2 separate regions of the Homo sapiens genome follow, and region 1 is linked to region 2. Evidence: fine-mapped expression QTL. A gene starts in region 2. The other region holds a variant in brackets. All regions are shown on one strand. Distances are between the middles of the regions.

Evidence for each region. PIP is the estimated chance that this variant, and not a neighbour inherited with it, causes the effect. A credible set is the group of variants that fine-mapping cannot tell apart.
Region 1: its variant is the best candidate, but not a certain one, in a credible set for the expression of ESPNL in subcutaneous fat (FUSION, PIP 0.54).

The regions. Positions count from the first base shown.
Region 1 is chr2:237,972,739-237,977,121 of GRCh38, reverse strand. It overlaps UBE2F (ubiquitin conjugating enzyme E2 F (putative)), which reads right to left. Exons shown (of 10, transcript NM_080678.3): 2 at 3,897-4,030. The coding sequence starts at 4,014. UBE2F-SCLY (UBE2F-SCLY readthrough (NMD candidate)) reads right to left here. Exons shown (of 19, transcript NR_037904.1): 2 at 3,897-4,030. Among named protein-coding and RNA genes, the nearest start is that of UBE2F, 7.9 kb to the right of the region's middle. The variant C/T (reference allele first, on the strand shown) is at 2,221.
Region 2 is chr2:238,098,272-238,102,654 of GRCh38, reverse strand. It overlaps ESPNL (espin like), which reads right to left and starts at 2,315. Exons shown (of 9, transcript NM_194312.4): 1 at 1,942-2,315; 2 at 524-714. The coding sequence starts at 2,235. SCLY (selenocysteine lyase) reads right to left here. Exons shown (of 12, transcript NM_016510.7): 12 at 3,242-4,383. The coding sequence ends at 4,300. It overlaps UBE2F-SCLY (UBE2F-SCLY readthrough (NMD candidate)), which reads right to left. Exons shown (of 19, transcript NR_037904.1): 19 at 3,242-4,383. RefSeq lists enhancers at 1-107, 3,873-4,167, 3,802-4,383.

The DNA of each region.
Region 1 (4,383 bases), 130 kb after region 2:
AGGTTGGTAGGTCTTAGTGGGCTCTGTCAGCCCTGGAGCCGGCAGAGAGCTCCAGGGTGAGTTCCTGAGCAGGGCAGGAGACATGGAGACGCAGAGCCTCCTTGAACTCTCTTTTCTGTGGACTTGCACTTCTATTCTGCTACTTTGGTTTCTGCTTGTCGCATCTGCCCCCACAGAGCCTGTCCTACCCCAGTATGTGGGTCTGGCTGTCTTGCTGCAATAAACCCGCAAACTGGGCAAGTTTCTTAACCTGAGTCTCAGCAGTTTATGGGTAAAATGAAGGATCAATCTGGCAAGGCTTTGAAAAGTCAAACAAGAATTACCCCATTAAGTGCCTACTATGGCTCGAATGGGGCCAAAATTCATGCTGAAGCTTAATCCCCACTGTGGTAGTATTAAGAGGTGGGGCCTCTAGGGAAGTGATTGTCATCAGGGCTCTGCCGCATAAATGGATCAGGGCCTTATAAAAGAGCAGGAGGAAACTAGCTTAGGCCCTTTTTGCCCTTCCATCTCTTCTGCCATGTGAAGACACGGCAACAAGGTGCTATCTTTGAAGCAGAGAACTACCTGTACCAGATACCAATCCTACTAGGATCCTGGACTTCCCAGCCTCCAAAACTCTATTGTTTATAAATTACCCAATCTGTGGCATTTTGTTACAGCAGCACAAATGAACTAAGAAGGTGCCCAACAGAGGGCCTGGCCCTAAGTGCTCAGTATACAAAAGCTCCTATTAGCTACTATTAACCATGACAATGATTGGGTAAAGAAGATGGGACAGTCTGTTTGTCAGCTTCTACCCACTCCTCCTCAGCTGACATCCAGGCCCTCCTTGCTGCAACTCCTCAGGCACTGAAGCACTCACTGTCTACTCCAAGTACAGCAACAACACACCATTTTCCTGGCTTGTGCTGCAGATGGAGCCCGGAATCTGAGAAGACACTCAAGTCCTATCAGGCACACCCAAGTAAGGTGCTCCAGCTCTTGCCCCGCCCTCTGGGCCTCTTAGGGTAAAGCCTCCAGCACAACAGACGCTGAATACAATCTACTATTCTCCCAGGCTTAGTAGGTAAGGCCAAAATGTGAAATACCATTCTCACTCCACTTTCAACCAATCATCAGGCTGGATAATCCAAAACTAAGTCCAAACTCAGGGGCAGAAGGAGAGTAAGAAAAAGAGTACAGGCCAGGCACAGTGGCTCATGCCTGTTAGTCCAGCACTTTGGGAGGTCAAGGCAGGCAATCACTTGAGGTCAGGAGTTTGAGACCAGCCTGGCCAACATGTTGAAACCCCGTCTCTACTAAAAATACAAAAATTGGCTGGGCGTGGTAGTGTGTGCCTGTAATTCCAGCTACTCAGGAGACTGAGGCATGAGAATCGCTTGAACCCAGGAGGTGAAGGTTGCAGTGGGCCGAGATCATGCCACTGCATTCTGTCTTAAAAAAGAAAAAGAGGACACTGTTAAGTCCCCACAAACCCAGTGCCCTCACAGTTCCCATTCCTTCCCCAGTTTAACAGTGATTTGTGTCTGGGAAGGCCAAGCACAGCACATTTACATACACCAGCTCTTCTGCTGTTAGATTCTTCAGGACACGTAAATGCCTGCAATCTCCATGTTGTCAACCTAATACAACATGAAAACAGGGAGTTCGAATACACTAATCAACCCTTTGCTTTCTAGCTGCTCTACATGTAAGAAATGTAAACACTTGACGGGTACAGTGGCTCACACCTGTAATCCCAACACTTTGGGAAGGCCGAGGTGCGTGGATCACTTGAGCCCAGGAGTTCAAGACCAGCCTGGGCAACATAATGAAACCCCATCTCTACAAAAAAATAAAAAATAAAAAGACTAGCTAAGCATGGTGGTGCACGCTTGTAGTCCCAACTACTCAGGAGGCTGAGGTGACAGGATCGCCTGAGCCCAGAAGGCTGAAGCTGCAGTGAGCCATGATTACGCCACTGCACTCCAGGCTGGTGATAGAGTAAGAGTCTGTCTCAAAAAAAAAAAAAAATTTTAAAGAAATGTAAACACCTGTGATAAAGTAAGGCCAGGCACAGTGGCTCACGTCTGTAATCCCAGCACTTTGGGAGGCAGAGGCGGGTGGCTCACCTGAGGTCAGGAGTTCAAGACTAGCCTGGCTAACATGGTGAAACTCTGTCTCCATTTATGGCCGGGCACAGTGGCTCACACTTGCAATCCTAGCACTTTGGGAGGC[C/T]GAGGCGGGTGGATTATCTGAGGTCAGGAGTTCAAGACTAGCCTGGCTAACATGGTGAAACCTCGTCTCTATTAAGAATACAAAAATGGCTGGGCACGGTGGCTCATGCTTGTAATCCTAGCACTTTGGGAGGCCGAGGCGGGCGGATCACCTGAGGTCAGGAGTTTGAGACCAGCCTGGCCAACGTGGCGAAACCCCATCTCTACTAAAAATACAAAAAATTAGCTGGGCGTGGTGGCAGGCGCCTGTAATCCCAGCTACTATGGAGGCTGAGGCGGGAGAATCACTTGAACCCTGGGGGCAGAGGTTGCAGTTAGCCAAGATTGCACCACTGCACTCCAGCCTGGGTGACAGAGCGAGACTCCATCTCAAAAAAAAAAAAAAAACAAAAAAAAAAAAACCACAAAAATTTGGCCAGGTGTAGTGGCTCATGCCTGTAATCCCAGCACTTTGGGAGGCCAAAGCGAGCAAATCACCTGAGGTGGGGAGTTCAAGACCAGCCTGATCAACATGGAGAAACTCCATCTCTACTAAGAATATAAAATTAGCCAGGTGTAGTAGCGCATGCCTGTAATCCCAGCTACTCGAGAGTCTGAGGCAGGAAAATTGCTTGGTACTCGAGAGGCTGAGGCAGGAGAATTGCTTGAACCTGGGAGGCGGAGGTTGTGATGAGCCAAGATCACACCACTGCACTCTAGCCTGGACAACAAGAGCGAAATTCCATCTCAAAAAAAAAAAAAATGAGCTGGGCGTGGTGGCGGGTGCCCGTAATCTCCGCTACTCAGGAGGCTGAGGCAGGAGAATTGCTGGAACCCAGGAGGTGGAGGTTGCAGTGAGCCAAGATTGTGCCACCGCACTCCAGCCTGGGTGAGAGTGAGACTCTGTCTCAAAAAAATAAATAAATAAAATACAAAGTTAACTTTATTATAAATAAGCAAATTATAATCTCCTTAAAGGTTGCAACTGTTTCTTCATCTTTTATAGGTCTTATGACCCCCAAGAAACCGACTTCAAAGCACTTGAAAATTTTAAGAGTTTGCTAAATGAATAAATGCAAAATTTATGCTCAAACATACAAATGAATGCATATCTGCATGCACGCATACTCTCATACATTTTACCAACCCTTCTCCAAGGATAAAGTTTCTCCTCACCAACATGGATAGCAGAAGTCACGAAAACTCTAGAACACTATATGTTATTAATTCCGTGAAGAGAACTAATTTTTCACAAGATTCGCCGTAGGCTTTGACCTGAATAAAACAGGAAAAGATCCTAAGAGATTACAAAATTTGACTCCTTCCCCTTTACAGAGCAGAAACTATGGTGCTGAGAATCAGAAAGAAAGGAAGATAATGGCAGCTCTGAAACCAGTCTTAGGCTTTGCTGACTCTCAGCACCTTATTCTTTCTGCTAGCATTTTGGCAGACGTGACAAAGAACATCCCAAGTGTATAAGACACACTGCAGTTTCTAATACCATCTCCTTGCAACAGTGTGCTCATATCACCTGCGTGGTACAATGTCCTTCACTATAAGAGATAAGCAATTATATTTTAAAATCTTTTAAACAGGTATTTCTATTCAGCAGTAGGTTGCTTTATATCCCCAAAGACTCTCCAGTCAAACTTCCTTTTGTTATAGGATATAAAAACAGTTCACACGAATGATCATTACCTTTAACAAGCAATTTGTCTCTCACAGAAACCCTCCGAGTCGAGTCGGACGCTGTGGCTGCCGTCCGGGACCCTTTGAGACCATCGTCACGCTTCAGTTTACTTGCTAGCGTTAGCATTACTGCTGCCTTTACCCTGAAAGACAGCAATGAAAGCAGGGTTAAGGACCAGGTCTCCAGAGACTAATTAGACACTGAGAAAAATGTATAAGTGCTTTTGTATTTTGATTTTTTCCCACAATTTAGTTATGGAAAAAATTTGTACACATTAATAAGATTGGATTCCTTCATAATACATTTGAGAAGCTCTATGCCATCCTCTATAAGCCTAACTTTTAAAATTATGAATTAACATTTTTTAAAAAAGAGAGTCATGGCTGGGCACGGTGGCTCACAACTATAATCCCAGCACTTTGGGAGGCCAAGGTAGGAGGATTGCTTGAGCCTAAGAGCTCAAGACCAGCCTGGGCAACATGGCAAAACCCTGTC
Region 2 (4,383 bases):
ATTCCAGCAGGGGGCACAGGGCCCCAGAGACGATGAGGCCAGCGCCCGGCTCTAGGGGTCCCAGCACAGGGGTGGGGCAGTGCAGAGGCAGCTCCAGCCTCTGTGTCCCCAAGTCCACTAGACAGTCCCCACTCCTGTCAGGTGATGGGAGGGTGCCCTCACAGGTTGCCAGCTGCCCACGTCCCCAGCTGTTTTAGGTCCCGAGATGCCCCCAGGTGGGGCCAGAGCTGCCCTGGGCATCACAGCAGCATCTTGCCATCGTCACCGCCCCCAGCCACTCTCCAAGCTGAAGCACTGGCCTGTGTCCCCTTGGGCCCTGGCATGGCACTGCCACTGCCTGGCCTGTGGGTAGAGGCCTCATTGCCCTTGGCTCCTGCCAGCTCACCCCCACAGTGACAGCATGCCCGCCTGCAGGATTCACCTCAAAGGCCACCAGCCTGTCCTCTTGGCCCTCCATGGTGCAGCCTCCCCTTGGCCAGCTCGCCCCAGGCTGCCCCCCCAGGCGGGACTTTGGGCTCCTTACCTGCCATGCGCGGCTGTCAGGAGCTTGAGGCAGGTCAGGTCCCCACTGACGGCAGCGTGGTGCAGCGGCCGGGCTCCCTCCCGGGTCTCTAGCGTGGCCGAGTGGCCCTCGTGGAGCAGCCACTCCACCAGCACTGGGTGTCCAAAACGGGCGGCCAGGTGCAGCGGGGAGACGCCCGAGGCATCTTGGTCCTACCAAGCCCCGGGTAGGTCAGTGAGTGGGGGGTAGGCCGTGAGGTCAGAGCCAGCTGCCGGAGGTGGGCCCTGGGCGAGGGCTCACACTGCCTGCAACCCAGTGAAGGGGCTTCCAGCTCCTTCCTCCTTCCCTCCGTTTCTGCCTGCAACATGGAGGGAGGTGCTCCCTGCTGGGACTGAGGTGAGAGGAGGGCCAGGACTCAGGTCCAGGTCTTGGGAGGCCACCTCTGGCAACCCTGCCCTCTCCTGGGCCCGTCCCCAGTGTGGAGAAGGCCCTTTCCCACGCAGTCGGGTGCCCGCAGACACCTGCCCACTCTGCTCATGGTCAGAAAGGCTTCCCAGGACACCTACCTCTGGCTGGTCCCCTGCCCCAGTGCCCTCCCGCTGGCCACAGGGTCCCGGGGCCAGGGAGCGTTCCTACCACAGGTGTCAGGGGTCCAGCAGACCTGGGCCTTCTCCAAGGGCCCTGTCAGAATGGATCCCCAGGCAGGCACAGCTCCCGCCTGCTGCCCTTGGGTTTGGCGGAAGGGCCGACAGGAACAGGATGCTGGGCCGGGACTCTCAGGTGCTCTGGCGAGCCAGGTGCTGGGGAACCTTCCCGCTCCGCAGTCTAAGCAGGCCCCACCGGCCCCCACCTCAACTCTGACCTCTGGGCGGCGGCGTTCTAAGGCCGGTCAGTCCTGCTCACCCTCAGCCCTGAAAGCTCCACAGGGCTGAGCGACAGCTCTAAGGGCCTCGCCTGCACAAAGGGGACTGGGCAGGCAGGATAGGGGAGGGGGGCCCAGTAGAAACGATCCGGACAAGACGATCACCATCAGCAGCCCTAACTCCCGTCCCCCAGGGCTAGGCTCCCAGCTCTCAAGCCCAAGTTCCCACAGTGCTTCTGTAAGGATCCCTTTCTAGACCCTTTGGGAGGCAGGCCCTGTGGACCAGGCCTGATCAGAGACAGGGGTCCTGATATCTGGCAAGACCCCCACTGGCAACGCCCAGCTTCCTGGCAGGGAAGGTGATAAGAAAATTTAGGAGGTGTTCTTGGCTCTCAAGCCTTTGTGCTCTGAGAGGCGTGGGGCAGAGACGGTAACCACTGACTGAGTCCCCAAGAGAAACAAAGGGCCCAGGGCCATGGAGCCCGGGGTGGCCAGTACTCTGATCCTCCGTGGCTCACACCTCCCTGGTTCCACCCCAGCCAGCTTCGTGGAGCCAGGCTGCCCCATCCCCGCTCACCTGCAGACCGCAGCCCCCCTCGCGGACCAGCCAGCACAGCTCGGCCAGGCTGCCCGTGGCAGCGGCGTCATGCGCTGGGGTGGCCCCGTTGTGGGCCCGCTGGTTGCCGGGCAGCTGGGCCCGCTGCACCAAGAACTTGACGCAGTCCAGGTGGCCAGCCCGGGTGGCGTGGTGAACCAGGCCGGCCCCCAGAGCATCGGTGATGCCCGGGCCCAGGGCGCCAGCCTCCAGCAGCCGCTCCAACGTCGCCACATCCCCATCCTTGGCGGCCACGAGTGCCCGCTGCTTCTCCATCCTCTGGCCCGGGCTCTCAGTGGCGACTCATGCACAGGCTGGGGCTTCCTGTTTCAGACGTGGATGAAGCTGCCGGCTCTGGTTACCCGATAAGCTGCCACAGGGCAGATGGGAGGCGGTGGGGTGGGGTCGGGTGGGGGGACAGGCCTTGAGGACCTGCCCAAGCCACTCCCACAGTGTGAGGGTGCCAGGTGCCTGGAGCTGGGAGGATGGAGTACAGGGCACAGGGAAAGGCCCACACCAGGCTAGGTCAGGGCTGGGTATGGCCAGCAGAGAAAGGAGGCTGGCCCTGAGGCTGCTCAGATCTGTCCAGATGGCAGGAACTTCATCTGTGGAGCGAGGGCTGAGGATACACGCCACTGAGCTTCTCACAGGAGCCCCGAGTGGCCTGGGAGACAGTTCCCCCAACTCTCACAGAAGGGCAGACCCCCAGCCGCCACCACAGTGTGTCTGAAGTAAAGGGTGCCCAGTAGGTCTACATGTTTGGCTGTGTTGACACCCACAGAGCTGAGCGCCCCGCCTCTGGGTCCCGGCCCTCGGCCCTGGAGGCTCCTAGGAATCTCTGGGGACACAGTGGCTCCACGGGGCCTGCAATGGGCTCAGGACCCTGACTTGGGTGTGTCCAGGCCTCTGAGGCGAGAAGGTGTCAGCCCCTGCCTCGGCCCCCTCTCCAACTACACGGACCAAGTCTCTGGGCTGCAGCCCCAAGGGCCCAAGTACATTTAACCCCTTTCCAGATTGTTCTGGACAATCCATAGTTCTTCTTTAGGGAAGTCAGGACCACCACAGCCTCTTCCTGGCAGCAATGGGAAGCTGCAGATGGGGGACCCATTACATTTGTAGGGGCTTCCGGAGACACAGCCTCAAGCTGGATTTCTGGGCTAACGCATCATCACACAATGGTGACCTGGGGGCTGCTGCACCCCTGGCTTCCCCCCGACAGGCTCTGTCAGATGACTTTGTGCCCAAGCGCAGTGCCCACTAGAGAAACCACAGGATCCCCAAGTCGGGCACTGAAATCTTTTATTCGTTAATTTAGTTTCTGGCAAGTGTTTCCTCAAAATCATCAAGTAGTTCCTTGAACCGTAAAACCACACATTAAAAATGTTATTCCACTGAAAATGACTCCTATGCAAATATCGACATGTGATGTGTGTCCAAATGCCAGAGCATTTTGAGAAAAGAATCCTCTGCAAATAAAATTAAGGTAAAAGCTGAGTCAGGGATGATCCGATTCCCACCCCAGGAATGACCTGGAGCTGCACCAACTCAGCGAGGTTGGAGCTGAAACCCTGAGTTAATAATGATCAAAAGGGACAAGACAGGAAGGCCTGGGGACCGTGGACAGGGAAGTGCGCAGCCCTGATTGCCAGTGGGCGGAACAGGGTCAGGCTCGGGGAAGCAGGAGGGGTGGTGGGCGGTGGGCGCTGAGCAGAGCAGGCCTGGCCGAGGCTGGGGGCCACTGTGCACTGAGGCCAGAGGAGCAGGGTGGTGGGGGCAGCTTTGGAAAGGGACTAAAAAGGGCCTGAGAAGAGACCACTCTGGAAAGGTGCATGTAGAGGCCATGATCAAAACAAAAAAATCAAGTTTCCTACGTTCATGATAGCATTTGGCTGACAATGAGTTATAAATACTTGGATTCTATCTTCCAGATAAAAACACCTTCCAGGAAAGGGCACTCACAACAGGCGTGCCCAGTTCCCAGTGGGGAGGGTGGATAAAGCTAAGTGTTTCCGCTTCACCACTGGAGGACGGTTCTATGTGGGCGGTCCCATGTGGGCGGTCCCATGTGGGCGGTCCCATGTGGGCGGTCCTATGTGGGCGGTCCTATGTGGGCGGTCCCATGTGGGCAGTCCTATGCGGCGTTGGTGTCCTGGGCCCTGTGAGCTCTGCAGGGGTCCAGGGAAGGAAACTGGGGGTGCACACTCGCTGGCACTCCAGGACAAAATGCAGAGGGGGCATGAGACAGTCATCCTGGCACAGCCCTCAGGAGGGAACTGGAGGGACAACCCTGTGCCCTGCCACGGGCTTCCCAGAAGCGGGGTGGGGAAGGCGGCCCCAGTGCTAGGCCTGGTCCTCCAGCTGCGCCACGGCCTGCTTCAGGTCCTGCACGACGAGGTCCACCTCGGCCCTGGTGGTGCTGCGGCC